Linked DNA regions of Homo sapiens. The protein of the gene in region 1 interacts with the protein of each later gene in a pairwise test. Each region holds a gene or a part of one and is shown in the gene's direction. Other genes may lie near its edges. The genes, in order: MSRA, WDR44, FARSB, ARID2, SDHB and CCNI.

Region 1 (3,500 bases):
AAACAGGAATAAGAAGCCTACATTTTAGTCAATGGAAGGTTCACGTGAATAGAGGGTGGAAGCCCTTTGGAAACACTGTTGTTCTGGACAAACACAGGGTCCTGGTCTCCACTCTGGGCTCTGGGTCTCAATGCCTTTCTAACCTTGCCCACTGGTGCCCACTGCCACCTGTGCTGCCAGGAGCCATCCTGCATTTCCCAGGGTGGTATGAGAGCGTGTCACCTCCATGTAATAGGCTGAGACACTCGGGCACTTGGAGAATCTCGGTGATCCTAATCGTAAGCTTGTTAGCAGGCTGCAGTCAGCAGAATGATCACATGTTCATTACATTTATTACCAGAAAGGCTCTTTACTGGCCGCCCTAGAAGGACGGATGGGACCTGCTGTGCCCGGCTGGCACGCCTTCCATAAGGAGTGACCCGGCTGCTTTTCGTGCATCTGTGGTGTTCCTATGAGTCGCTGGAGCTGGAGACCGAGCTGAGGTGGATGAGGCCTAGGGGGCTGGGGGCTCCATCACAACTTACACATGCCTACCCGCCTTCCTGCCCCAGAGATCTGCTGCTCAGCCATAGAAATGGGGATTCCATGGGGGAATGTGGAAATGGGGGCTACTTAAGGAGGGCAGGATAGGCAGGCTAGCTTTCACCCCTGGGTGGGGATTTTTGGGAAATGGAGCCAGTACTCTGCAGTAGTTAAAACACGCCAGGCAGGCTGTGTCGTGGCTCACACCTGTAATCCCAGCACTTTGGGAGGCCAAGATGCGAGGATCGTTTGAGGCCAGGAATTTGAGACCAGCGTGGACAACATATAGGGAGACACTGTCTCTATAAAAAAATTAAAATTAGCCAGGTATGGTGGTGTACGCACTTGTAGGCCCTGCTTTTCTGGAGGGGCTGAGGTACAAGGATCGCTTGAGCCCAGAAGGTAGGGCCTGCCATCAACCATGGTTGCACCAGTGTACTCCAGCCTGGGTGGCAGAGCAAGACCCTGTCTCAGCAACAGAAAAGCCAGGCAGGGCATGGTGCACTTTCTGTGCCCTCTCTGCATTCCTCGTCCTAGCACAGTGAACTAGGTAAGGGGCCCATTTCACAGGCAGAAAAGCTGAGTCCAAGGAGAAAATGACAACAGAAGGAAGGCACAGGAGGCTTCCTGGGGTCATTGAGGAAGAGTCTGTGAGAAAAACACAAATGACCAATTCTGTTAGGTGACCTTCCAGAAATTCCCTGGGCCAGGTGTCGCCCCACATGTGTTACTGTATGCAGTCCTGCTGACTTCTTTCTAAAAGGTCAGCAAGACACACACACAAAAAAATGCCACAAGCAAAAGTCAAGATACTTGGAGTCAGTAAGAGAGAGAAAAGTTGCCGGGAGCTAGGCTCAGGTCATTCCTCCCCTGAAGTGGAACGTGGTAGGGGCATGTGAGACTGGCTGTCAGTACAGCCCTGGGGGTACCTGGCCCCACAGGCTGCAGTAGGGAGCTGGGCCGGGGCTACCCTATGCAGAGGCAGGCCCTGGGGTTGAGCAGCAAGAGCACCTCTTTCCAGGCTTTTGAACCAATCTAGGCAGTTACTTCAACCAGGCAAGTCCGTCATGACCTGAACTCATTCTCCATCCCCAAAAGTGGCCCCATAGGGCCTGGAGGATGAGCACAGTCCCCTGAGGGCACCTGGGTCTTGAGGCCGGAGCGCCACTGCCCTGCCTCCCTCTGTCCAGCACAGTGTTTCTGGTGACATCCCACTGTCACGGGTGCAGCCTCCTTATTGGAAGGCGCCTAAAGATTCAGTAGGTGATGTGGGCAGTTGTCTCGGCAGTCACGAATGGTCAGCCGTTTTTATGGGTCCTCCCCATGGACGACGGGAGAGGGGAGAGGCCACCAGGCTGCGCATTACCTGGGTCCCCACCCTCTTCCTCCTCTCCAGCTCTCCTGACAGTTCTCTCCTGCCTGCTCCTGAGGGCCAATGAGAGGCAGTAAAACCGAGATCCGGATCTAAGGCGTTCCATCTGCTCCAATTCGTTAAGGAAAAGTAGATGACCACAAGCATTGGTGTGTCAGCCATGATCAGTAACACGCTACCTAGGAACCCCTGCCCCATCACTGACTGGGACACCTGGTGTGTGTTGATAGTGCAGGAAGGGGGCTCAGGAGACTGGCATGCACCCATGCCGGCACCTGCATAGCTTGGCCCCGGTGCCAGGTTGACCAGTGGACTTGGGGTGGGGCGGGGAGGGGGGGTGGCAGCAGAGGAACCATCTGTAACCCAGAGGTGACAGTCTTCGTCCCCTATCTCCCCCTGCTCCTGCACCACCCCACTCTCCCTGCAGAAGAGCAAATGGGCTTTTTCAGGAGCCGTGGATGACAGAGAGGCATTCTTCTGTGCTCCCTGCAAGGACACAGCACCACAGGGCCACCATCTAAAGACTGAACCTGCCCATGGAACTGGCCAGGACTCTGTGACACGGAAAGTGGCTGCCTGAGTCCGTCGTCCCCTTCTCCCTCCCACCATTCCTTCCCAGGCCCTAGAGGAGGTGCTGGGTCTTGAGGTAGCAACAGGGACCCAGGTGGAATCCAGAAGCAGAGAGAATCTCCAGGAGATCCCAAGAATCCATAGTTCATTTTCTCATTCATTCATTCATTCATTCATTAATTGCACACAGTGCACAAAGCCCCGAGATGAGGGAGAGACACAGACAGTCCTGGGTAGTGGAAGTGGCTTGGAGAACAGAAGGGTTTTTGTAATGCAGCGTCATCAGCGCTGTCGGGCATTGCGATGCCACGCGAACATAGTATGTGGAGCAGCTTCTGCCTTCAAGAAGCGGGCAGGTTTCATAGAGGTGGGGACATTTGGTCTGGGTCCTCAGAGATGGATAGGAGTTCCTGCGATGGAAAAGAGGAAAGGACATTCCTTGGAGATCGTGTGCAAGGGAATGGAACATTCGGGAAACAGGTAAAAATGAACAACACCAAAGAAAATAGTGCGCAGAGGGGAAGGAAAGGCTGAAAAGGTAGAAGATGGTGAGGGAGACGATGCTGAGGGGTGAATCAGGGAGAAGGGCCTGGGGTGGAGCGGGAATGGGGAGAAGGCCCGGGGTGGAGTGGGATGGAGAGAAGGACCCGGAATGGAATAGGATCGGGGAGAAGGGCCTGGGGTGGAGCAGGAATGGGGAGAAGGCCCGGGGTGGAGTGGGACGGGAAGAAGGACTCGGGATGGAATAGGATCGGGGAGAAGGGCCTGGGGTGGAGTGGGATGGGGAGAAGGACTCGGGATAGAGTGGGATTCGGGAGAAGGGCCTGGGGTGGAGAGGGACAGGGAGAAGGGGCCAGGGTGGAGTGGGATCAGGGAGAAGGGTCTGCGGCGGAGCTAAACTGGACGGGGAGAAGGGCCCGGGGTGGGTTGGATCGGAGAGAAAGGCCTGGGGTGTTCTGATTCGGGGCCAGGGAGAGGCCCCCTCCTGGGTTAGGGGAGGTGCTGGGGCAGGCCCAGATCTCCCAGGCTCCCTGGT
Region 2 (5,423 bases), on another chromosome or scaffold:
GTACCTGTAATCCCGGGTATTTGGGAGGCTGAGGCAGGAGGTCTTGAGCCCGGGCAACATAGAAGACCAGCCCGGGCAACATAGAAGGACACCCAACTCAAAAAATATATATATGATTCTTTTTTAATTTTTAAATCGATTGCATAATAGTTTATTGACTGTATTGTCTCATGCTACAGATTACAAACAGGTCATAAAGCCACAGGAATAGATACAGTGTACAAAGAGTGCTTCTAAAGTATTTGAATGGTAAAAAGTTATCAAGTACTTTAATCTCAAGTAATTTTTTTGTAGTATTATTTGGACTATCTACTCCACTCATGACACTTTTCCTTCTGTCTGTGAAGAAAAATTTTGATAACAAAGATGAACTTCAGTCTAGCATTTCTTTCAGTACAAGATACAAAAATAAACCAAGTTAGAATGATTAAACCTTTACTAAATGCCTGTTTAACTGCTGTCTGTTTTCTTTTTCTTTCCTTCTCAGAATCACATCCAGCTTCTGTCTTCTAACTTAAGTCATTTACGTTTTTTCTTTTTTTTTTTAACTTATGAATGAATGAATGAATGAATGACATGGTGTCGCTCTGTTGCCCTGGCTAGAGTGCAGTGGTACAATCATAGCTCACTGCAACGTTGAACTCCTGTGCTCAAGCAATCTTCCTGCCTCAGCATCCCGAGTAGCTAGGACTACACGTACTACCATGCCTGGCTAATTTTTTTTTTTTTTTTCTTTTTGCTAGCAATGAGTTCTCGTTATGTTGCCCAGGCTGGTCTCGAACTTCTAGCCTCAAAAAGGTTAGTCCTACTTTGGCCAAAGTACTGGGATTACAGGCATGAGACATCATACCTGGCCTTTTTTTCTTTTCTTTTCTTTTTTCCCCAGTGCTACCTTTTTACATTCCATATACTTCCCCTGCATATTCCACAGGAAATTCTAGCTTTTAAAACAATTTGAGGAAAAGTAAAAAGTACAGGGTTTTTTTTAACTTCTCAAAAATATACCACATTAACAAGGTTCAGTTAACTAACTGGGTCCTTTTTTAAGAGGCACAAATTTTAGTGGATTGTACTCAGATTTGTGTTTGTCATTTTGTACCCATGTAGGTGTAGTCTAAGAATAAGCTCTCTTAAACCCAAAATGTGGGATCACAAAATATATTCAATTCCCCTCTCTCTTTGTTCCTGACGTGTTTGGCAATTCAAGCCTCAATTTTCCTTATGTGTAAAATAATGATGATAACCTAGTTTATAGAGTTTCAATAAGAATTAGATATGACATGTATAGGCTGGGCATGGTGGCTCATGCCTGTAACCCCAACATTTTGGGAGGCCAAGGCAGGAGGATCACTTGAGACCAGGAGTTTGAGACCAGCCTGGACAACATAGCAAGACCCTGTCTTCACAAAAAATTAAATAATTAGTCGGGCACAGTGGCGCATGCCTGTAGGGAGGCTGAGGTGGAAGGATCCTTTGAGCCCAGGAGTATGAGGTTACAAGAAAGCTATGATGGTGCCACTGCATTCCAGCCTGTGCAACAGAGTGAGACTCTATCTAAAATATATATATATATATATATATATATATATATATATATACTTGTATGTGTAAAAGTGCCTAGCAAAATGCCTGGCATGTAGTAGGCATTATTGTTATCATTTTCATTATTATTGTGTCTTACAAAGCATTTTATATGTATGGTGAATTATTTTCTTCTCTATCCTTTCTCATATTCCTAAGTTCTTTGCTGCTGCTACTACTGCACAGCACTGCTGTGAGATATGCCAAAAGGGTGGTAAAGGAATGTTCAAAGGCTTAGGATATGTTTTTAGCACATCTAAGTGAAACCATTTTGTGTGACTCATCCTGTCCACAACTTTCCAATTAAAGTTTGGATTATTTTCTTCTTTTTTAAATCTCAAATTAAAATCTCAGTTTTCACCTATGTATAATAGAGTTAGTTAACACTGAATTTTTTTATTAAGTGCTTTTATGCAACTGGCAAATGTAAGAGGTAAGCATTTATGCCATTCAGCATAGTTATATAGCTTTTCAGTAAGGACCATATGGCAAAAGGTGCTGTCAGCATTCACACAGCAAACGTGTGTACTTCATTTCATGGCAGTTTCAGTATGTCTGCTATACAATAAACCTTACTGGCAACCTCGCTAGACACCCCTGTTAGCAACAGACTTGCCCAGCTGATCCGATTCTGCCAGCACTCCAGTCCTGGGGCTGAATGACACACTAGCTTCTTGCCATGCAATGAAGCATTAGATGACTTAGATGCCTAGGCTGCCTAGGAATAGGTCCAAGCATCCAGGCCCCAAGAGACTGTAATATCCTCAAGCCAGGGAAAGACCAGCTAAGACAAGGTAAGTGAAAGTGAGCCTCAGAGCAGAGGAGAGATTCAGCAGAATGAAAGAATTACAGGAGCCAGCCAGAAAAGGAGACTGAAAAGGTGGGGAGATGATCTTCTCCCCTGAAGCTGGAGGGTCATGGGCATGTGATAATTGTGGCAGCAGGCTTCATATTCCTTTAAAAATCAACTTAAAACTATTTTTTATACTTTTAAGGTATTATGAAGACAGATAACACAGAAGTTCTTCTCTCTGCTGACTTCACTGGAGCAATCAAAGTGTTTGTTAATAAAAGAAAAAATGTATCTTAATTTGAAATGGCATTTAAAATAAACATATCAGTAAGTTTCTATATGTATCAAAACTGAAAAAATAGTGTTCCAGGCTAACATACTTTTTTAATTTTTATTGAAAGTTGTTCAAATATAATATATTTTTTGAGAGGCAGTGTTAATGATCTAGGAAACCCTGGGCTGATAGAGTAGAAAGGAATATGGCTAGAATAACATTGCCAAACATTAGGCTTTATGTTTTGTTATGTTTGTGTTTTCGTTGTATAATTATGAACATGCACAAGTTTCTGCATGAAAAGATATTAATATATTAATCACATGTATGTGCCTTTTGGTTACATGCATTAAATCTAACAGAGTTAAATTATTTCAGTGGCTCTTTTGGCCTCTTACTAGGGGGGATAGTCTTGTTTCTAGCTTAAACAATTTTTTTTTTGCACAAAATTTCATTTTTAATAAAAGTGGTATCTTTTGACTGAGTTATTGTTTTGAAAATGGTATATAGGTTTCCAGTAGGTCAACAACCATATGTAAATGGTTTTTATAAATTTCTCAATTTGGGGACAAGATTTTTTTGTGGTCTAAATTGTGGGCTTAAGATTCTTTTCTTTATATGTGTACATATAATTTTTTTTTCTTTGCCACACTGGAGCACAATGTTTCTATGTAAAGAATTATTTTCATTCTTTATCCATGAGCACCAGGCTTTGCTCACTTAAAAAAAAATTAAGCCACATTAAGGAGTGAGTCTTCTTTTTTACAATAATGTAAAAATTAAACTGTTTACATTTTTTTAAAGCATTGTAGTTTTTAAAAATTAAGCTGTTTTGTTTTGTGTTGTTGAATTTGAAAGCCTTTGTAAATATCAATATAATGTACCAATGAAATAACATCTGGGGCAATGAAACCCTGATCATGTTGTTGATGGTTAGCATATGTTTCTGAAAATTAAATATGTATTATTAAAAGTTGGTCTCCAACACTTGTTTAAACATGACTTTATTTTTAATTGACTTCAGTAAATCAAGGAATGCAAGAAAAATAAACTCTTGTTTTAATCATTTAAATTTTAGCAACAGAAGACCAGATTTTAGATCCCTAAATTATAATGCATTAGTTACATGCCTTAAAATTTTTTTAATTCTAGCTTTAAATTGAACAGTGCTAAGAATTCATCTATATGCTTATATGTTCTTTACTGCATTTGTTTTCAGCATGTAAGTGAGAAGTTGGGGAGCCACGGACATATCCTTGTTGATTAGCACGGTCTTAGAGTGTTCTAGGCTTTCTAGTAAATTACATATTATTTGTTGCTTTCTTCTTGCCAGTGCTGTGCTTTCTCCCTCTACCCTTCCCCCTCCCCTCTCCTCATCTCTCTGGTTGCTTTGGCTTCCTCACTCTCCTGTACTCTCCCTGACTGAATTGTTATGCCATTGGCTTTCTAAAAACCAGGCACAGTTTCTTTAATCTCAAGGTCTGGGTGGCATTGTGATTGATCCAGTGTTTCTTTTTAAAACTTGATGTCTTCAGCTCTTTGAGGCAGCTTGGCTTTCACTAACTTCTGCCTGAGAACTTGTAGTCGGCTGTGGTGTTGATTGTTTTAACTGCAGATAATCAGGGTATTATTATATGACTATCTCGTGATAGGTTTTATGTGGTTACTTGACCAAAAAGACAAAACGAGTTGGGATGCAAGCTTAAAAGCATAATACTGGCCGGGCGTGGTGGCTCATGCCTATAACCCCAGCACTTTGGGAGGCCAAGATCACCTGAGGTCAGGAGTTCAAGACCAGCCTGGCCAACATGGTGAAACCCCATCTCTACTAAGAATACAAAAAATTAGCTGGGCGTGGTGGCGGGCACCTGTAATCCCAGCTACTCAGGAGGCTGAGGCAGGATAATCGCTTGGACCCAGGAGGCGGAGGTTGCGATGAGCCAAGATCGCACCATTGCACTCCAGCCTGGGCAACAAGAGCAAAACTCTGTCTCAAAAAAAAAAAAGCATAATACTGACACTTGTTATTGCTATATGAATACACTGAATTTAAAAGGTAGCATCAAAATATATAGAAAAAAAGAACACTATTTCTCTTTAAAATGAGTTTTAGATATTCTCTATAACGAGTGATATGGTATTATTAAAAAAAAAAAGATCACAGGTTCTAGAGTCAGGTAAACTTGGATTTGCTTCCTTCCCGTTAGCACATTCCTTGGGCAAGTTATTTATCCTACATTACTACTACTTCCTTATCTGTAATATGGGAATACCTAACTTAAATTGCAAAGATTTGCTAAGAAATCATGTATGTGTAAAGCTTGGTGCCTAACCAGTAGGTATACTCAACAGATGTACATTTCTTGCTGCCTCTCGCAAATCCGTGAGTACTCTCTCAGACCAAAAAAAAAAAAAAAGACGATATATGGAAACGCTTTCTTTTTGAGATGGAATTTTGCTCTTGTTGCCCAGGCTGGGGTGTAATGGCACGATCTCGGCTCACCACAACCTCCGCCTCCTGGGTTCAAGCGATTCTCCTGCCTCAGCCTCCCAAGTAGCTGGGATTACAGGTATGCGCCACCATGCCCAGCTAATTTTGTATTTTTAGTAGAGATGGGGTTTCTCCATGTTGGTCAGGCTAGTCTCCAACTCCCGACCTCAGGTGATCCACCCGCCTCGGCCTCCGAAAGTGCTGGGATTACAGGCACGAGCGACCACGTCCAGCCAGAAACGCTTTCTAGACATAGGGATTTCATGGACACACAGCATTTTAGG
Region 3 (5,567 bases), on another chromosome or scaffold:
TATATATACACACATTTGTAGTTGTGAGCATCCAGGATTTCATATAAAATGAAGTACCAAAAATAACATTGAAAAATATATTTTTATTTTTTAAAACATATGAGTGTCACAGGAATACATCTTATTTTAAAGGACTCATACTTTAACCATGTAGATTAAACCATAACAGTTCTTTTCCCCACTTCGAATCCTCTTTTCCTCCCCAGAAACAACTGCTGTTAAAACTTGGGTATGCATTTTTCCCTGCCCTTTTATATTAGTGGTGCCAGTTTGAAAAAAGTTACTTATTACTTTATCCTTTTTATACTTATACTTTATACTTATTACAATATCCATTGCCAGTTTGATTTTGTGACCTTAGAGCCTCATGTGTCTTCGAAGGAGCACAGAGGCCGAGTCTTGACTAGTGGCTGCTCTGCAGGGAATGTTTACCCTGTGCCAAGGGCTTTGTGTACATGATTCCATTTCTTCTCAGTATACTCCTGTGAAGTGGGCATTCCTGTCTTTCACAGCAGTTAATTTAAGTAACTTGTCCTACGCCATGGCTGTGGATCAGGGATTCCCGCCCATGCCTGTCTGCATCCAAGGCCTGTGACTGAACTGTCACACCAGGGATGTTAGAAACAGTCTGTTTAGCTGTCCAAAGTCACTTTAATACATTCAATGTTTATCACTGGGGGGAAGAGAAAGGAGTGAGCTCCTAGAGGGTTTCAGATTTGTACTAAATTTTCCTGTAGGAATTTCAACATTAAAGATGTTTATAAAGATGTTTATAGGCAAGCCTAAGCATCGCTGAGCAAAGATGGTCTATGTTGTTAAATCCAGTTTTGCACAAGAGTAACAGCCATTTTTTTAAGCCTAGTCTCTGACTTTCTAAGTGTAAATAATTCACACTTCATCATATTGATTTTTGCTATATCTGCATAGTAGTTGTAATATTTTCTTTTAAATTGGCTCACTTTTAAGTTGGCTTATGTACTTCAGCCTTGTTATAGGAATAATATCTGTAAAAACTATAAGGTTCATTTACTTGTTGTATTTTTCTAACACATTAAAATAAACACATAAATATTAACATTAAAAAAGTTCCTGGCAGGCATGGTGGCTCATGCCTGTAATCCCAGCACTTTGGGAGGCCGAGGCGGGCGGATCACTTGAGGCTACAAGTTCGAGACCAGTGTGGCCAACATGGCAAAACCCCATCTCTACTAAAAATACAAAAATTAGTCGGGTGTGGTGGAGGTTGCAGCAAGCCGAGATTGCACCACTGAACTCCAGTGTGGGCGACAGGGTGAGACTCTGTCTCAAACAAAAAAAAGTTTCTTACTGTGTACTAACTACTGCCACTTCAGGGTAGCTTAATTTAAATTGCCTCTTGTCACTATCCCTTATTATCCATTGCCATGATAAAATACAAGTTCACTCAGATACACAGCTGCGTTGCCATGTGTCTGCAGAGTGTTTTTCTTTTACACAGAGAGGACTAGTTTCATTTGAGAATAGATTGCTTCATGTCAGTTGCATTTCATAATTAATCAGTCACATTATACCTAAGTCTTGCTGTAAAACTTCTTTATGCTGTGGGGAAAACGCTTATCCCCAGTGTGCATGTCACCATTCTCCATCTCAGCAGCTGTAGCAGATCCGGGAGCTGTTTTCTGCTATGGCTGGATGTGGCTTCAGGATCTTTCTCAAGAAAGCATGGCAAGAATCACTAGAACTGACATTGACATGAAATGAATTCTTTTTACCATTTCAGTTGATGTGTATCATTTTGTTTTAATAAGTGAAATACAGGCCAACTAGCCTTTGAAAACTAGTTGTAGAACAGCATAATGAACAATATTGCCTAACATTGGACAATAGTACAATAATCTGATGGTACATCAGTTTTTGTGTTACGTTTTAAATGCTTTTTCAAAAAGCTAGCATTAATATACATGATAATAATTTATCCTTAGTAATGATTTGTCAGTTATCATCATTGTTGGTATTTTTTGAGTGCTTACTCTGTGCCAGGCACCATACTTGCATTATCTCATTATATCATTTATTATTAGACTTGATGTATCTAATCGTCAGTGAGTTTTTAATTTCATAACTTCTGCCTACAATGCTGGTTTCTGAGGGTGGCAAGCATCTTTCTCTTCGATTGGTGGGTACTCAGCAGTTTATTTGTTATGAGTTTCAGGCATGTGCACAGAAGTTAAGTGATACAGTAAAGAACACTGGGCAGAGTTCCAGTCACTTGAATTCTGTTGTCAGTCCTACTGTTCTGCCACAAGTCAGTATGGATTTAGCAAGGGTTATAATGGTAGTCAAAATGGAAAGTCATGAAATACCAAGGAGGGAGAGAAAGTTTCTGACTAGAGTCATTAGGAATATTATGGAAGAGAGGTCATTTAAGTCAGCCTTAGGGAATGGTAGCAGGTGAGGCTGGGAGGACATTTCAGGTAAGGTAGGGAAACATAAGGTTTAGGGAATGGCTAGGGCATCATGGGAGATTAGATTGGAAAGGTAAATGGGAAACTAGCTTAGGAAGGGCCCGAGTACAGTTTATACCATCTCCATGTGAAAAATTTACTTTAGCTCTGTATGATGGCTAGGACTCATTGTGAAAGAAGTATTAATGTTAAATTCCATCTGCTATGGGCCTGAGATTGATGTGTATTTATTGTTAGCTTATTCTTTTTTTGTTTGTTTTTTATTATTATTATTATTACATTTACTTCAGCTCACACCAGGCCTATTCTTAACTTGCTGATATGTGTAGAGAATATAAATTGCTCTTAGAAGTTGACTTACAGCATTACTTTTTATTTTAAACTTAAGTAATTGCTTTTCCATATTAATCTGTTTTGTGTGTACTTCACAGTGCTCCCAAGAAGATATTGCTGATAAACTAGGTGTGGATATCTCTGCAACAAAGGCAGTCCACATAAGTAATCCTAAAACAGCTGAATTTCAGGTAAGAATTTTAAGTAGGTGAGAATTCATGTAAAAACCTAGAGGTAGTACATGAGTTAGGAAAAGTCTCTTCAGTTATTATACCTGAGATGGTGAAATCTTAGAGCTTTTTAATAATATCTTCTTGGGTAAGTTTATAGTTGGTTATTACGTGCTTTGCTGCCAAAAATTCTTTACACTTTTAAAAATAATATCTTCTTGATTAACTTCATACTGGGTTCTTACTTGCTTTGTATTATCTGGCCCAATCTCTCTTGTCTGAACTTTCCATTTCATAATTGATTTTTTAATACTATTTTCAGATTTCATTTTTTTTTTTTTTTTTTAATTTTTATTTTTTGGGACAGAGTCTTGCCCTGTTGCTCAGGCTGGAGTGCAGTGGCACGATCTCGGCTCACTGCAACCTCTGCCTCCTGGGTTCAAGCGATTCTGCTGCCTCAGCCTCCCAAGTAGTTGGGATTACAGGTGCATGCCACGATGCTTGGCTAAATTTTTTTTTTTTTTGAGACAGAGTCTCGCTCTGTCGCCCAGGCTGGAGTGCAGTGGCGGGATCTCGGCTCACTGCAAGCTCCGCCTCCCGGGTTCACGCCATTCTCCTGCCTCAGCCTCCCAAGTAGCTGGGACTACAGGCGCCCGCCACTACGCCCGGCTAATTTTTTGTATTTTTAGTAGAGACGGGGTTTCACCATGTTGGCGAGGCTGGTTCTGAACTCCTGATCTCAAGTGATCCGCAAAGTGACCTCAGCCTCCCAAAGTGCTGGGATTACAGGCATGAGCACCTAGCCAGGTTTCATCTCTTTTCCATTCATTTGTAATAAATGAATCAAAACCTGTTCCCAGTTCCTTCGTAAGTCATTCACTTTGAAATTGCCCATTATATCAGTTCTTGACTGTGCTGCTTATGTCTTTTATTGTAATTGTCTAAGTTTATTGGCAGTTTCATTTAGAGGTTAGGAATATTTAAATGAGAATGATACTGCTTTAATATTGAGTATTAAGTGATTTGTGTTATAGACTAGGATATTAACTATAAAGGGAGGGCATTTTAAGATTATAACATCTTTGCTTATTAATAACTTTAAATAGTTCTCTTTTATACTGATAAGCTCTTGTGCTGTTTCTCTTGCATATGCAAGTCTGTATGTTTTTTAACCTAGATTTTAGAGAAAATCATGTCTTCTTCTAGAATCAAGGGGAATCTTAGAACTGGAAGGTTATATTTTAAAGAAGGTTAATGCTATTATAAATAATATCTGAATTCTGATTTGAAATAGTTTCTTTGGATTTTGGTTTTTACTTCTACAAAAATAAGGGACTGGGTTAGTTCTAAAAAGAATTCTAAAAGTTCTAAAAGTGTTTAAAACTAAATTTAAAAATTCTAAAGTTTATCTATAGAACCACCTGCTAATGTTGTAGATTAGAGCTAGACTAATTAAAGAACTAATTGGTAATATATATCAAGTATATGAATTCTTTATCTATACTTAGGGTCAGAACTTTGAAGAATCCTTATACTAATTTTGGAAGGATTGTAGTAATGAGTTGTTATATTTTATTTTCTGAGGTCTAGTTTCCTATTGCTTTTAAAGTTTGCCCATGGTGTTCCTTTTAATAAGAGGTATTCAAATTCATTTGCATAGAATGATTTTTCAGTAAATCTTAATGGATTTTTGCTTATTCGAAATGTACCTTTTTCTCCCAGTTTTACTTATCTAGCTTGATTACTTTTTTAAAAAACTTTATTTTATTTTTATTTATTTTTTGAGACAGAGCTTCGCTCTCTTGCCCAGGCTGAAGTGCAGTGTCCTGATCTTGGCTCACTGCAACCTCCGCCTCTTGGGTTCAAGCGATTCTTGTGCCCCAGCCTCCCGAGTAGCTGGGATTACAGGTGTGTGCTACCATACCTTGCTAATTTTTGTACTTTAATAGAGATGGGGTTTTACCATGTTGGACAGGCTGGTCTCGAACTCCCGGCCTCAAGTGATCCACCCACCATGGCCTCCCAGAGTGCTGGGATGACAAGTGTGAGCCACCTCGCTTGGCCTTTTGTCAACTTTTATTTTAGATTCAGTTAGTACATGCGTGGGTCTAATTACAAAGGTATATTGCATGATGTTGAGGTTTGGAGTGTGACTGAACCCGTCACCCAGTAGTGAGCATAGTACCCAATAGGTAGTTTTTCAGCTCTTGCTCCCCACCTCTCTCTTCGCCTTGTATTCCCCTAGTGAAGCTTGATAGATTTCTTAAGATGTGGTAACTGTTATGTTCTTCAGGATTTACATCCTGTCTTTTCTATTTTATATAAGTGGAAGGAAAATAATCAGAAATGCATTAAATGTCACTATAAATAGCTGTGGCTTAGCACACTTAAGAATCAATCTTTCTTGGGAGGCCGAGGCGGGTGGATCATGAGGTCAGGAGATCGAGACCATCCTGGCTAACAAGGTGAAACCCCGTCTCTACTAAAAATACAAAAAATTAGCCGGGCGCGGTGGCGGGCGCCTGTAGTCCCAGCTACTCGGGAGGCTGAGGCAGGAGAATGGCGTGAACCCGGGAAGCGGAGCTTGCAGTGAGCCGAGATTGCGCCACTGCAGTCCGCA
Region 4 (5,567 bases), on another chromosome or scaffold:
GGCTTGGTTTCACTTAATGAAGACTAAGAAGCTTTAATTATACCTACAATATAATTTTAATTTCATGTCATCCCTTAAAAGCAACCATTTTGTTCCTCTCCAGCTGTTTTCTGACACCATTTTCTAAATTTTCTAGAAACATGAATGAAGATTGAAAAAGAATTTTGCTGTGCAGCCTTCCATATTTAGAAAGGTACTATGGAGAGGCTGGGCGCGGTGGCTCACGCCTGTAATCCCAGCACTTTGGGAGGCCAAGGCGGGTGGATCACAAGGTCAAGAGATCGAGACCGTCCTGGCCAACATGGTGAAACCCCGTCTCTACTAAAAATACAAAAATTAGCTGGGCGTGGTGGCACACGCCTGTTGTCCCAGCTACTTGGGAGGCTGAGGCAGGAGAATCACTTGAACCCGGGAGGTGGAGGTTGCAGTGAGCTAAGATTGCGCCATTACACTCCAGCCTGGCAATAGAGTGAGACTCCTTCTCAAAAAAAAAAAAAAAAAAAAAAAAAGGTACTATGCAGAAAAGGCAAACAGTAATAGTCAGCCTCAGTTTATCCTTCTAGTTGTTTCCCAGATGCTTCCCTCTCTTCCTGCAATACTATATTAACATTTACGGGGTGTGGAGCTATGTATTGTTTCTATTTTAGTTTTTAAACTTGCAAAATTCATGATAAAGAGTCATCGCTGTGACCTTGGAGACTGACAATCTTCTATATGTTTTTTTGCAGATTGTTAAAGAGACATGAAAATAACTTATCAGTGCTAGCCATTAGTAACATGGAAGCTTCCTCCACCCTTGCCAAATGCCTTTATGAACTTAATTTTACAGTTCAGAGTAAGGAACAAGAAAAAGACTCAGAAATGCTGCAGTGAAAAATAATTCCACTTACACAGTGGGGGACTCAAAGTCAGCCACATTTCACATACTGTTACTGAAGAAAGCACCAAGTCTTAATGGAACAAAGACCATAGAATGAATTATTTTATCTCCTCCCATGATGCTGAGAGGAAGCTTCGTATTCTGATCTCTGAGTGAATCCCTTTGTTCTCTGTTTAAAAAAATCTAAAAAGAAAAAGGAAAAAAAAAAAAGAACTGCTGTGGGATTGTCAACCAGCTTATCTGCAGGATGTTTCAGATCTGATAAATCCTGATGGAAACTGGTATGATCAGAATTCAGTACCATCCACATTGGAATATACATGGAATATTGTAAAACCTACATGAGCAGATGAAATAGAAGCATTAAATATTTTTATCTATATCCAAAAAGGAGCACATTTTTATATTTACAAAACCGTTTAAGCTGGTTTGAATAATTTAAAAAAGTTTCAGCACACCTATACCCCCGATCTCAGAGGGGGCCACCAATATCTAGCTATGGATCGTGTGTTTTGTTTAGAAATCAGTAGCTTGGTTTTCTTACTTGAGCCAATATATTTTCACTTATTTATTATCATAAAAATTTACCAGTCTGAATAGATCTTGTAAATATTTGTGAATAGAATGAATACCTTTCATGCCACTGCAGCCACTGGAAATACATTCTGTGGTGTCCTAGAAGCATTATTGGTAGGTTCTAAAGTTTTCTAGACTTTCCTGTCAATTGTAAGTAATTGTGATATATTCTATGCAGTGGATGAATGTTCTTTAAATTTGTGTAAATACTTCTGCAAAGGTACTGATGCTGTAAAGTCAAAACAGTTTTGTGGAACTGTGATTTTTTTTTCTTTTTTCTTTTTTTTTTTCTTTTTTTTTTTGTATTATACACCTTGTAGAACTCATTTTGCTGGCTGAAAGAGTATGGAATAATATATCTCATGTCATTTTTTAGAAGAAAAACTATTTGAAGGTATTTTTTGGTTTTCCTTAACATGTATCCACTGTAAACGTTTGTCGTGTACAAGCTCAGAGCTTGGACAGAATTTTTTGTATTTGTAAATTGGTTTAAATACATGGAATTTTATACAGGTTTTCTCCTGTGTTATATATGCATTATGTGCAGGTATGATATTTTCTTCACTACTTTTTCTATCTTAATATAGTGTGGAATTTTATTGTATTATTCTTCCATTCTTAATACTGTACCACATTCCTGCTCAGAAACTGCTCACTTCCTTAAATTGTCTTTTTTCCCCCAGCGTGAAATGTATCCATTTATAACTGCCTATTGCCTGTTCTATTAGCATCCAAAAATGTGGAAGGCCTCCCAACCACCATTTCTGCTGTGTCCTTAGGATGTGCAGTAAAAAATATAGACCTAACAGTTTATGTTATAGAATGGCTTTATTTACTTTGGTGACTGTTTATAGTTTTTAAATAAAAGACTGAACATTTTCTTGAGTCCTTCATTTCTGAGTATGCTTAAGACATCTTAAAAATATAGAGAGAATTCTAAATTCAGCTGAAGGCAAGGTATAACGGTCACCTACCTATTTGATTATATGTTGATTGATAACATATTAAATAGAGAACAAATAAGAGAGGTCCTTTACATGACAAATTTGCATGAAATAAGCAGATTAACCAAGTATTTATTTTTCATCTTGTTATAATGCAGAGCAAATGTAGAGAACAGCAAATGATTGATGCAGTTAAAGCTCAATATGCCTTTTTTTACTGGATACTGTACATTTGGCTAAAAGCTTTTATTGTTTGATGTTGTGTTTCTTGACTGTTTATTCAGAATCACAGTGTATCCAAATCTTCAGCTTGAATTTGGAGGCAGATTCTTAGAGTGAAAAAGCCTCAGTTTCCATATTAAAAATGTTTTAAATATTTTGATTGAATTAGTACCAATGTAAAATCTAGTTTCTTCCTGAAGGAGGATCCCTGGCGCTGTCCTGCCATGTCTCAAAGGAATGTTTGAGAAACTTCATCTAATATTAGTTATAAGGTTGTGGAATTTATGCTTGGCCCACCTTCCAAGACTGGCACTGCCCAACAGACACCGCTGAAATCATGTGGGTATCCCTAGGATGGCCTTCAGAGCCCTCAAACTTACAAGCACCTGGTAGTTGACATCATATGGGGAATTTTCTATTCACCGTACTTATCCAAAAATCTCTTTTAAAAAGTAAATTTGTGCAACAACGTTTATTTGAAAGATAATGTCTTCTCAAAATCAGAAACTGCAGTGGTAATTAAATTAATAGAAAAGAGAACAAACTGCAGGTTTAGAAAAATGGTTTTCATATTCACCATTCTTCCACCTCATTGAATTGCATGCTGTAGTTCTAGCTTTTCTGCTATAATATGTAAATATGACTGTAGCCTTTTAAGCTTCAGTCTCAGCAGAGAATTTCCTAAATGCGTTTGACCTAATGAAACTGATCATGGCTTCCCACTTAGGTTTTTCTTCTTATAGCTTTATAGAACTATATAATAATATGGACTTGCTGTGTAATGGAATTAAAGTGCTTTTGCACAATAAGTTCTGCAAAACCCTCTCATTCATGAAAAGGTGCTCCTTGCTAGACAGAAACTTGCTGATTTACAGTATTGTTATTTTTGTCTAAAGTTCTGTAAATACATGCTTTAATGTTATCTTTGAGAAATCTATGTAAATAATATAGTCTACAACATAGAGACTGTATAATTCTGTGTTATATATGTGCCTAGTGCTCTGTTGGCACTCAATAAATTTTAAGTAACAAAATTGATAATCATATAGCGAAGGCATATTTTTCTTCCAAGCTCAAGTCAGGATTGTGACTATATATTAATGAGACTCAGTAATCCAACCCACACCTGAGAACTCGTCTCATTACTTTATAGTCATGTCATGTATGTTTTTTTAACCATGAAATGACAATAAAATGATTTTTAAAATGAGAATGTTTTGGATAAGTGACTTCTGTCCTGATCTTAACCACTGCTGTTAAATACCAAACAGAGGAAACATGATGCAAAGCAGAAGCTGCTAAAGAGCAGAAGTGGAGCTATGGGGTTAACCACGTGGGACACCTGGCACTGTCACTGTTACCAAATAGTAAGTTAAATGAGAACAAAATCCAGTATCTATTAGGAAATTTTAGCCGATCACTTTCATACTGCTTGACTCTTCTCAGACTCATACAGCAGTCAGTCATACGACAACTACACTAGCCTTCTCCAGAGGCAACAAAACAAATGAAGACAGTACCACTGTCTAATTACATTACTACACTGGTATTTGTAACTCTTTCATTTCAATTATATAGCCTCATTTCCTATTGGTAAAAATTAAGTCCAGGATTGCCTTGTGTGTGGATAAGAAACACTAAGACACACTGGCATATACTTAAGTAGATCCATTTACTTTGATTAATAAGACTACATTTAAATATTAAAAGAAAAGGCTATTATTAAGTCAAGTCCTGGCTCCTGTGGATTTTAGTCTGAGATACAACCCACATTGTATACATTTATTTAAAACATAAACTGCCTTTAGAAAGTAACTTAATCAAAAAGTTAAATTATATGAAAAGCCTCATTCCCATCTGCTTCACCACCCGTGTCCCCCAACCAGATAACCACTGTTCACATTTCTTGAGTACATCTCTGGTGTTGATTACATACAAGTGAATTCAATATTTTCTCTTTTTTACACAAAAATATGTCATACCATAAATAATATGCCGTACTTTCTTGAAATTTTAATATTTTAAGTTTATTCCATATTGGTACATAGCTTTCTCATCCTTCTTACAGCTATACAATATAGTTTTCCATTGTATGGGTATACTATATTTAACTAGACCCCATATCGATGGACATTTAAATTGTTTCCAAAATTTAAGGTGCTGTTTTAAACTAGTCACTAATACTTTGCTGAACACTACTCTGTCAGGCACTGTGCTAAGCATTTTACATGTATTGTTTCAGCCTTCACAACAGCCCAATGTAATAGCTAATATTTCACAAGTGGGGAAAAGAGGGTTAAGATGAGTAAGTACCTTGACCAGGTTCTTAACAGCAAGTAAGTGGTTAAACTATCCAGCTCCTCTGAAGCCTAGTTATGAAGAGTAATTGGGAGAATTCTTTCCTCAGAGAGTCAGACTCAAGGCCAGGAGTCTGCTAGTATAAACACTATGTACCCCTAATTTTGGTGTGGATCTTTTCGTTTGTATTTGCCTCATTGTTCCTAGTATTTTCTTTCTTTGCATTTTGTCTTTTTAAGATTTTCCATAATTCTTCAGATTTCCCAAGTATTTCATTCATTAACTTGGCACCACTTTATACAGCCAGAAAAATTTTCTGGAAATACCCTTGACAAAGGGCCATTTCTAAGACAAATATTTATAGTAAGTTGAAACCACAGTTTCTAATCAACTATCCGTCTGGTGCCTAGTTCAAACAACCATCTGCTGACTCCTTTGGAAAGAGTCATACTCCTTAACAATAGTATGATGTTAATAGGATTTTCCCCAGCGTACACCTTTAAATCACCTTCAATGCACAATACTGTTGGAGTACCTATGCTGCTGCTTTGGAAGGCGGAGACATCCTGCTCTGAAGGTAGCCCAAACTTACAAATAATACCCAATACGATAAAAGATAAAAACATGTGCCATAAGGAAATTATAAA
Region 5 (4,473 bases), on another chromosome or scaffold:
TCTATGTTGGTCAGGCTGGTCTCGAACTCCCGACCTCAGGTGATCCACCCACCTTGGCCTCCCAAAGTGCTGGGATTACAGGCGTGAGCCACCGCGACCGGCCCCTCTCATCTGTTTTTTTTAAAAGACAGGGTCTCACTGTGTTGCCCAGGCTGGGGTGCAGTGGCGCAATCATAGCTCACTGCAGCCTGGAACTGCTGGCCTTAAGTGATCCTCCTACCTCCTGAGTAGCTGGGACTACAGGCACACACCACCACACCTGACTAATCCAAACTCATCCTTTTATCAGGAACTTACTCCTATGATAATGGCAATCCATTTGTGAGGGCAGAGCCTTCATAATCTAATCACTTCTTAAAGGTCCCACCTCTCAATACTGTTGCATTGGGGATTAGGTTTTCAACACATGAGCTTTTGGGGACACATTCAAACCATAGCAGGTGTCAGCCCTGGTCCAGTCAGCCTTGCCCAGTGGGCAGGGAAGGGCTAGGGCTGTGTGGTTCAGAACACGGCTGCCCTCCGAGCAAAGACTGTGGGTGATTTCACTCAAAAGTTGCAGTGAGTCAGTGGGCGGCAAGGTGGAAAACTGTAGGGTGGCCAGTTAGCCGTAAAAAAAGATCACACTGTGTGTTTGAAAACATGAAATCCAAGCTGTAGAATTCACTTATTTTTTGCCTGGAAACCCTCTGTGTTTCCAGTGGCCTCGCTGGGGGAGCCCACAGGCTTCAGCTCCCTATTGCCTGGGCTTCCATCTGGGTCCTGTCCCCAGGACTGTGGTTTACCATGATTGTGCCTGTGAATAGCTACTGACCTCTGAGGCAAGTTATGCTATAAAAGTGCTTGGAACAGTGCCTGGCACATAGTAAGCACCCAATAAATGTCACCTTATGTTATTTTTTAAAAAAACATGAGTACTGGGCTTGTTTGAGACAGAGATAGCATCTTCAGTGGTGGGGCCTGGCTGTGTGTTTCTTCAGAAGCTCTGCGAGTGACTCTAAGGTGCATTCCTGGTCACAAACCTGTGCATGGAGGGGATGGGTGCAGCAGACAACTGAGACAGCCAAGAACAGGTTCTCTGTGCCTTGCCCTCCCTTCTGTAAAACAGGGCTGGAAGTTGGGACTGAGACATAGACATAGGCCGATCATGAAACTGGAAGGGACTTGAAAACCATCAAGTTTAATCCCCTTATACAGATGGGGAAATTGAGCCCCAGGTGGGGAGGGGAGTGACTCGCCCCAGATCACTGTCAGGTCAGTGGGAAGGTAGGACTAGAGTTAGGCCGTCTGCCTCCCCATCCAGTGCTCTTTCTTCCTGCATGGATTGGGTATGTACCAACCTTCTAAGTCTAAACACCCTTACTGACCCTGTGGGGACCGGAAATACACAGGTAGATCCAGATTCAGAAGGATATACAGTGAAAATTCTCCCTCCCACTCCACCCAGCCACCTCCCTAGAAGTCAGATTCTTGTGTGAACTTCAGAGGTGTTTTATGCTGCACACAAATGCATATGTGTCCTCTTCTGTCTTTCTTATATCACATTTATCTGTATTTTTTCACCCACTATATTTTGGAGATTATCCCATGTTGGTATATGAAGAGTGTCTTTTTGACCAGCCTGGACAACATAGTGAGATCCCATCTCTACAAACAAAATTTTTTTTAATTAGCCAGGTGTGGTGGCACGCACCTGTAGTTTCAGTTACTTGAGAGGCTGAGGCCGGAGGATCACTTGAGCCAGGTGTTCCAGGCCACAGTGAACTATGATCACACTTCAGCCTGGATGACAGAGCAAGACCCTGTCAAAAAAATATATATTTTTTCTTTCTCTTCTTCTCTCAAGATCTCTTTTCTTTCTTTCCTTTTCTTCTTTCTTTCCACAACACTTTTTTAGGGGGGTAGACTTATCCTTCTAAAATGAGGGGAACCTTCACTAACGTCAGATGAGTACTTGTCTCATTTTACCAAGTACTTGCTTGGTAAAAGCAAGTACTTGGTAAAGTACTTCCTACTTTCTACTTCAATGAAGCTGGCATTCAGTGGGTTTAATTATTGTGCCTCCTGCAAAGCAGATGTTAACAGCTGTAGGGGCAAACTGCAGCTAATACCAATGGTATTGGCCAGTTGAAATCATCATGGTTTTACAAAGGGTTAATAGAGAGGGTAGTTTCTTCCACATACTTTTGAGAGCTGGTATATGCTGATTTCTGCTGCTGCCTATTTAATAATGATGATGTAAAAGATTTAGAGATGTCTGGCTGATTTTGACATTGGCCTGTAGTCCTAGAAGAGACACTACCCTGAGTGTCTTTGAGCAGTCAGAGAGTGCACCTCTGCCCTGGGCCTGTTTACCTGTTAGAGTGAGCCACACAAGAAGGAATTCAACGTGGCAGAGCTCTTGCCAGAGGGAGCTGACCATCTTCAAATGTTAAAAAAGGTAGACAGAAGAGAGCCCTTAGCCCAACCCCTATGGTTTTGAGGGACTTGATTTGCATTCACCTTGCTTGGACACTGAACCAGCTGAGGAAGGAGTTTCACCCAAGATTGTGGGTTTTCCCTTTCAGTTTCAGTTATCATTTGTTATTGATTCTTTTCTCTTTTTTCAAGGGTCTGAATCCAGGGAAAGCTATTGCAGAGATCAAGAAAATGATGGCAACCTATAAGGAGAAGAAAGCTTCAGTTTAACTGTTTCCATGCTAAACATGATTTATAACCAGCTCAGAGCTGAACATAATTTATATCTAATTTGAGTTCCTTTAAAGATCTTGGTTTTCCATGAATACAGCATGTATAATAAAAATTTTAAGAAATAAATGTTATTCTACTTTATTAACAAAAAAAAAAGAACCTGTTCCTTTACTTGCCGCAGGGGAATGTGAAGGTGCCAGGAGTCCTTGTCCTTGGAGAGATGGACAGGGCTTCAGAGCTGAGCGGGGGTGGGGGTACCCTAGCTGGAAGGAGGTGATGAGCCGTGGAACTGACATCAGCAGGGCCTGCAGCTTGTTCCCAGCTTTGCCACTCACCAGCTAGACAACCTTGGACAAGTTCCTTCACCTCTTTGCTGCTCCATTCGCCCATCTGTAAGATGGGATCCATAATTGTGCCTACTTCATTCATCTGGTATGAGAATGCCTGGCACTTATTCTGAACACTCAGTTAGTGTTAGTGTTCTGTATCTTCCCAGTTTCTATAGTTTTCAGTACCAGAATTACTGAAAACCAAATCTTGGTAAGTCTTTGGATACGTCGGTGAGGCCAGGTTTGAGATTCCTCCAGCACAGAGCAATGACCCTGGTCAGTTGTGAATCCAGTTAGTTCCACAAATGACCTCGTGGGGCCTCTCACTGCAAACATCAACTCCACAGCACTGCTGCCTTGGCTGGCATGCTCACTGCACAGCCGGGCGTGGTGGCTCACGCCTGTAATCCCAGCACTTTGGGAGGCTGAGGCGGGAGGATCATTTGAGGTGAGGAGTTCAAGACCAGCCTGGCCAACGTGGTGAAACCCCGTCTCTACTAAAAATACAAAAATTAGCTGGGCAGTGGGTGTGCGTGCCTGTAATCCCAGCTACTTGGGAGGCTGAGGCAGGAGAATCACTTGAGCCTGGGAGGTGGAGGTTGCGGTGACCGAGATCACACCGCTGCACTCCAGTGTGAGCAACAGAGTGAGACCCTGTCTCCACAAAACAAAAAAGCAATGCAAAAAAGGAGAAAGGGGGAAAGTAAAAGTGGAAGCTCCTCCAAACTCATCCCGTTGATAGCTTAGACATTTCCTTCCACACTCTACGTTATTACAGTTATGCAGCATATATAAAACTTTCTCCCTTCAAAAGTAAGGTACCATAGAGCCAGGAGCTGTGGCGTGTGCCCCTAATCCAGCTACTCAGGAGGCTGGGGTGGGAGCATCACGTGAGCCCAAGAGGTCGGGGCTATGGTTTGCCATGATTGCGCCTGTGAATAGTTACTGCGCTCCAGCCTGGGCAACATAGTGAGACCCCATTCCTTTAAAAAAAAAAAAAAAAAAAGCCTGGAACAGTGGCTTCTAGCACTTTTGGGAAGCCAAGGTGGGAGGATTGCTTGAGGCCAGGACTTCAAGATCAACCTGGCCAACATAGTGAGACCCTGTCTCTTTTTTTTCTTAACATACCAAAAAAGATTTTAAAAATAAAGGGGTATCCTATAGTCTGCCAGCAGCTATTTTTTTTTTTTTTTTGAGACGGAGTCCCAAAAAAAAAACTGCACTCCGCCTCCCGGGTTCACGCCATTCTCCTGCCTCAGCCTCCCAAGTAGCTGGGCCTACAGGCGCCCGCCACTATGCCTGGCTAATTTTTTTGTATTTTTAGTAGAGACGGGGTTTCACCGTGTTAGCCAGGATGGTCTTGATCTCCTGAACTCGTCATCCGCCCGTCTCAGCCTCCCAAAGTGCTGGGATTACAGGTGTGAGCCACTGCGCCCGGCCTCTATTTTTACCTCAC
Region 6 (5,567 bases), on another chromosome or scaffold:
GCACTGAGCTGACATCGTGCCACTGCACTGCAGCCTGGGCGACAGGCCAAGACTCCGTCTCAAAAAAAAAAAAAAAAAAAAAGTTAGCTCTAGACACACTTGATCTTGCAAGTGTACTTTCCTTCCTTTCATTACTGCTCTAAAGCTTTTTAATAAACTTTCTTTCCTGTTCTTAAAGTTAGCTCTGATCTAAAAAGTAATGAGTGGCAGTCACATTAATTGAATTCCATAGTATTTTGTGTATACCTGTCTCATCTGCATATCTAGGTTTTTAAAACAGTTACAAAAAGTTAAATTGTTTTTGAAAAATCACTAAAGTTGCTTTTTCCCTCTTCAAAATTTTAGGCTCATCCAAAATACTTGAGTTGTATTGCAATCAGCTGTTTTTTCCTAGCTGCCAAGACTGTTGAGGAAGATGAGGTAATAAATCCTTTCAAGATAATGTTTCTTCCGTGAAAATTTCTCTCCACATTTATTAACTTGCTTCGTTTGCTAAAACAAAAATCATAAATGAGTTTCTTTTCTGTCCTTTTCTCCCTGTCCCTGTTCCCCTTTGCTTTGGATAGAGAATTCCAGTACTAAAGGTATTGGCAAGAGACAGTTTCTGTGGATGTTCCTCATCTGAAATTTTGAGAATGGAGAGAATTATTCTGGATAAGTTGAATTGGGATCTTCACACAGCCACACCATTGGATTTTCTTCATATTGTAAATATACCTGAAGTCTTTTAGTTTCTTATTTGAGTGTGTAGTTTTCAGTAAATTAAAAAATAGATTGCCTACTCATTTATTTTGTACTGGAAATAGGAAAAAGAAAACTTGATATCCAAGGAAAAATTATAAATTAGTATATATGTCATATCACTGAAGCTTAATTCGCAGACTTAGAAATTGAATAGGTTAGGCTGGGCGCGGTGGCTCACGCCTGTAATCCCAGCACTTTGAGAGGCTGAGGCAGGCGGATCACTTGAGGTCAGGAATTTGAGACCAGCCTGGCCAACATGGTGAAACCCTGTCTCTACTAAAAATACAAAAATTAGCCGGGCATGGTGGCAGGCGCCTGTAATCGCAGCTACTCAGGATGCTGAGGCAGGCAGGAGAATTGCTTGAATCCAGGAGGCGGATGTTGCAGTGAGTTGAGATCATGCTACTGCACTCCAGCCTGGGCAACAGAGTGAGACTCTGTCTCAAAAAAAAAAAAAAAAGAAATTGAATAGGTTGCATCAATTTCTATATGTAATTTCCCAGATATTTAAATAAAGTTAAAATGATGTTCTTGTGATTTTCAGTTCCATGCCATTGCAGTGTCAACTAGGCCTCAGTTACTTTTCAGTTTGCCCAAATTGAGCCCATCTCAACATTTGGCAGTCCTTACCAAGCAACTACTTCACTGTATGGCCTGCAACCAACTTCTGCAATTCAGAGGATCCATGCTTGCTCTGGCCATGGTTAGTCTGGAAATGGAGAAACTCATTCCTGATTGGCTTTCTCTTACAATTGAACTGCTTCAGAAAGCACAGGTAGGTGTCAGTCTAATTAAATAGTGTTCTTTTTAAGTTTTTCTATTATTGGAATACATAGAGTTACCAAACTAAAAGACATTTCTCATGTTGTAATGGCAAACCATTCTTAAGAGTAGACAAGAGTAAAGTATATATTTTAAATTTACGGGCTAGGTGATCTCTTTTTTTCATATAAAACTTATATAGTATTTTTAAGATTCCTTTTAACCATTTCTCTTATTTTTAAGAATTCTAAAATGTTCATAAGATTGTCAATACCATATTGTCCTTTAGTTTTTTGTAAAGAAACTTCCTAGCTACATCTGTAGGTTTTAATGTAGTACTTCTTTACTTCACTCATTTTATAACGGATGTCAGGAACAAAAATTAGAATAAGTTGCTTTTTAGACAAGCAAATAATTTATTGTTGGCTAGTAAGTGAAGTATTTATACCAAACTGGCAGGTAGAAGCCACTTTTCTGAAAGAGGTTTTTCCCTGGCAGTTCCATTATTACCTAAGATTAGTTTGTAACTTGTATCTACAGATTATTATAAAATGTATAGGTTGATAAATTATCAACTACCTAAGTAAAATGTAAAGGTTCAGTGGAGAAAATTCTCATTCAAATGGAAAGTTGGTGAGAGTGCTGTATGTTAGCAACTACTTTGAGAGAAGGCTTACTGGTTCTATTCATGTCACCAAATAGAACTTACCGAGTTTAGATCTGCTGCAGACCATTTTCCTGCCACCTGAATCCATAAAAGACTCATGAACCTACTTTCCCTTTATATGGCTATTTATTCTTATTTAACAGTAGTTATTCTGATTTGTTTTATTGGATTTTACTTAGAAGATTGTGAAATTCTAAGCTTAACATTTTGCAATAAACTAATTGTAGCAAAGAACTGCAGTTATTGAGCTAAAAATTTAGATTATTATAAAAGAAAAACATAATAGTTGAATTTGGTGTTTTTCTAAGAAAGTTATAATTGATCTTATAGCAAACATTTTAAGAAGTATGTCTGAAGAAAATGAACCAGGCAAAAAAATAATTTTTTTTTTAAACAAGTATGTCAGTGCTTCCAAGAATTTTAGGCTCTAGTTTGTGAGCAGAGGGGAGCTCAGTCTTTTCATAAAAAGGTTGATGATCAGAGCAGTATGTTAGCTAGAGATCTACCTATGTAGTGTAACATGGGCTGTTTTTTGTTTTGAAGGGATATCTTAATTGTCTTAGATTAAAATAATTAAATGCTGTAATGAGAATAAATCCTAGGAGGTAGTTGCTACTTAGAATTTTTAGAAATTATGATAAACCACCATTTAAATGAATAATATGACACAGAAAATTTACTTTGCTCACCCTGGAGTGTTAGAAAGAAAAGTTGAATATTAATCACTCACATTAGACTGTGAAGTAGAGGAATAGGCTTAATAGAAAACCTCCTACATTACATTATTTTTATTGGAACAAATGACATCTCTCTAAATGCCTTCTGACTTATTCTCTGTGCTTACTCTCAAGATAGTACAGAAAAAGATTGCTTTAAAGTGTTAGTGTCAGAGGACAGATTTTGAAGCATAAATAATAATGTTGTAAATAGCATGTGTATTCTGTAGCTTTGAGATCATGTTTTCCTAGTGAAAAACACTGGAAAATCTGATACTCTTTTGTAAGTTTTCTGGTGCTAGAGGAAGAGAGTATTCACTGAAACTTTTTTTTCTTCTTAGCTGAAGGAGTATTGCAAACCTGGGATTTGACAGAATCTTTGGAGAAGTTATTTCATTCACCTCCTTTATTTTATAGCTCTGGTGTAGGGAACTGGAGACTTTCTTAGAGCCGTGTAGAGCTACTTAGTAGTGATTTAAAAGAACCAATGCTTTTTTTCATACCACACAAACCTTAAAAATTCTAGTTCAGTGGTTTTCATAATTTGTTTTAGAAGTGGAACCCTTTCCCAGTCCCCCTTCCCCAAAGAAAATCTTGTACACACACAATCCCAGAATATAGAATAGAAGAACGGAGCTATACTTGTGTTTAAGGGCAGATCTCCACTCAACATAGCGTTTTCCCTTCCATAGCTAGAAATCTACCTATGTAGTGTAGGTTTAGATTATATTATGTAGGTAGTCTTTGGACGTAGTTTGAAAACTGGAAATACAGTGAATTTTTTTTCTTTTTAAGAGATATGCCCCATGTAGTATATAATTGCAGTGGGGAAGTTAGTGAAGAAAAGGAAGGTCATAAATCTTGGTAGAGACTTTTGGGACTTGTTCTAGCAGTTCTCTAACACCAACCCATGTGGTCCAAACATGGATGGCTCCTAGTTCTTTAGGACTCATTTCTGTTTTTGCTAAGTTTGCTGTGTTCAGGTAGGGAACACCAGGTCTAATATCTTTGTGTTTAGACGTGTGACAAGGCCACAATATCAGATTTCTTCCTAGTTTTCTGGTTTTAATATAGGAAAGTCTTGCATCAGATTGATGAGATCATGCCAAAATTATTTGCGACATGATTCCCAGTGTCTTGGTTTGAGGAGAGTCCATCACAGACATACCGTGCTGTGAGGAGGCCACTCTCACTAGTTCTGCCTGAGCCCCCACTTTGAGACAAAGTATGGTGAGTGTTCCCAGGTTTGAAAGGCAATCTTCCTTTTGTCCCTGTTAACCTCCCACTACACCCCCTTAAGCTCTTGCGCCACCTGTTGGTCACCATTCTGGGATGGCTAAACCTCTTTCTCTCCTTAGCCTTATAAACTCAGGCTGTTAACTCTACCTAGATTAGTGTGGTGGTCTTTGTAGTTCCTAGCTGGGCAGTAGTCAAAGTACATGTTCTAGTTTAAAACTAGAGTAGGTGCAGCCATAAAACAGAACAAAATCATGTCCTTTGCAGCAACATGGATGCAGCTGGAGGCCATTATCCTGAGTGAATTAACGCAGGAACAGAAAACCAAATACCACACGTTCTCACAAGTGGGAGCTAAACGTTGGGTACACGCGGACATAAAGATGGCAACAGTAGAAACTGGGGACTACTAGAAGGGGGAGGGAGGGAGGGGAGCAAGGGTTGAAAAACTGTTGGGTACTGTGCTCACTACCTGGTTGACAGGATCACTTGTACTCCAAACCTCAGCATCATGCAATATATATCTAGTTAATAAACCTGCACATGTACCATCTAAAAGTAAAAAGAAGCAAATTTAAAAAAAAAAAAACAAAAAAACAGACCCCTCCCCACCAGTCTCCTGGTTCTTTTTGAAGGTGGCTGTGGTCAGACTATTCCAGCAGGTTCCTCAGTGCTTCATGCTGTTCATCAAACCTGGATCCATCTGGACCTACCATTTATGTCATTTATTGTTATAAAAAATAATACATATTCTCTTGACACCTTATAATTAGAGTTCATTTAAGTCCTTTTTATCAACTCCATTAGAGTACTTGTCTGGTGTCGAGAGTTTTGGTAGTTCCAGTATATGTGCTTGTTTTGTTTCTTCCACTGGATCTCAAGAAGGAACAAATTATTTTGGTGTCTTATAGAACAAATTCAGATTGTACTAGATTAGAAGGAATTTATTTTGATGTTATTTTGGAGAAAAGACTTACTTGGGACTTGGGTGGAAGTGGAGTTCATATGGATGGTTTTGTTTTGAATAATTTCTAAGGTCTTTTAGCTCTATCATTTCTTGTCAGTCTCCCACCGCTAAAATATAACTCTATTTACTTCGTTTTTTCACACAGAAAGATTATAGTGACATAGTCTTCCTCTTACTTAAATACATGTCTTTTTAGGATTCTGCCATAGTATTGATTCTGCCATGGCATTTATTATGCCCAGTGACCAAGGCATTAGAATATTTGTGGTACCTTTACCTTTTTAGGCCAATAAATATCATTCATTTGCTAAAGAACATTTCATTAAACGAGGTACAGTTGGCTCTCCATATCCATGGGTTTGGCATCTGGATTCAACCAACCGTGAATTGAAAATATTCAGGAAGAAATTTCACAGAGTTCCAAAAAAACCTGGAATTTGTGGCATGCTGAGTACTACATTGAATCTACACAGAT

Evidence for each region.
Region 2: the proteins of MSRA (region 1) and WDR44 interact in a two-hybrid assay, tested with the Homo sapiens proteins (one large-scale study listed by BioGRID).
Region 3: the proteins of MSRA (region 1) and FARSB interact in a two-hybrid assay, tested with the Homo sapiens proteins (one large-scale study listed by BioGRID).
Region 4: the proteins of MSRA (region 1) and ARID2 interact in a two-hybrid assay, tested with the Homo sapiens proteins (one large-scale study listed by BioGRID).
Region 5: the proteins of MSRA (region 1) and SDHB interact in a two-hybrid assay, tested with the Homo sapiens proteins (one large-scale study listed by BioGRID).
Region 6: the proteins of MSRA (region 1) and CCNI interact in a two-hybrid assay, tested with the Homo sapiens proteins (one large-scale study listed by BioGRID).

What each region holds. Positions count from the first base shown.
Region 1 is NC_000008.11:10,421,292-10,424,791, forward strand, and holds part of MSRA (mitochondrial peptide methionine sulfoxide reductase isoform a precursor), read left to right. Parts: intron 1-3,500. UniProt on the Homo sapiens protein: Has an important function as a repair enzyme for proteins that have been inactivated by oxidation. Catalyzes the reversible oxidation-reduction of methionine sulfoxide in proteins to methionine.
Region 2 is NC_000023.11:118,446,317-118,451,739, forward strand, and holds the end of WDR44 (WD repeat-containing protein 44), read left to right. Parts: intron 1-2,576; coding exon 2,577-2,671; 3' UTR 2,672-3,645; downstream 3,646-5,423. UniProt on the Homo sapiens protein: Downstream effector for Rab11 which regulates Rab11 intracellular membrane trafficking functions such as endocytic recycling, intracellular ciliogenesis and protein export.
Region 3 is NC_000002.12:222,617,046-222,622,612, reverse strand, and holds part of FARSB (phenylalanine--tRNA ligase beta subunit), read left to right. Parts: intron 1-2,875; coding exon 2,876-2,968; intron 2,969-5,567.
Region 4 is NC_000012.12:45,904,206-45,909,772, forward strand, and holds the end of ARID2 (AT-rich interactive domain-containing protein 2), read left to right. Parts: intron 1-728; coding exon 729-873; 3' UTR 874-3,832; downstream 3,833-5,567. UniProt on the Homo sapiens protein: Involved in transcriptional activation and repression of select genes by chromatin remodeling (alteration of DNA-nucleosome topology). Required for the stability of the SWI/SNF chromatin remodeling complex SWI/SNF-B (PBAF).
Region 5 is NC_000001.11:17,017,093-17,021,565, reverse strand, and holds the end of SDHB (succinate dehydrogenase [ubiquinone] iron-sulfur subunit, mitochondrial isoform 1 precursor), read left to right. Parts: intron 1-2,607; coding exon 2,608-2,685; 3' UTR 2,686-2,844; downstream 2,845-4,473. UniProt on the Homo sapiens protein: Iron-sulfur protein (IP) subunit of the succinate dehydrogenase complex (mitochondrial respiratory chain complex II), responsible for transferring electrons from succinate to ubiquinone (coenzyme Q).
Region 6 is NC_000004.12:77,051,102-77,056,668, reverse strand, and holds part of CCNI (cyclin-I), read left to right. Parts: intron 1-345; coding exon 346-420; intron 421-566; coding exon 567-707; intron 708-1,288; coding exon 1,289-1,519; intron 1,520-5,567.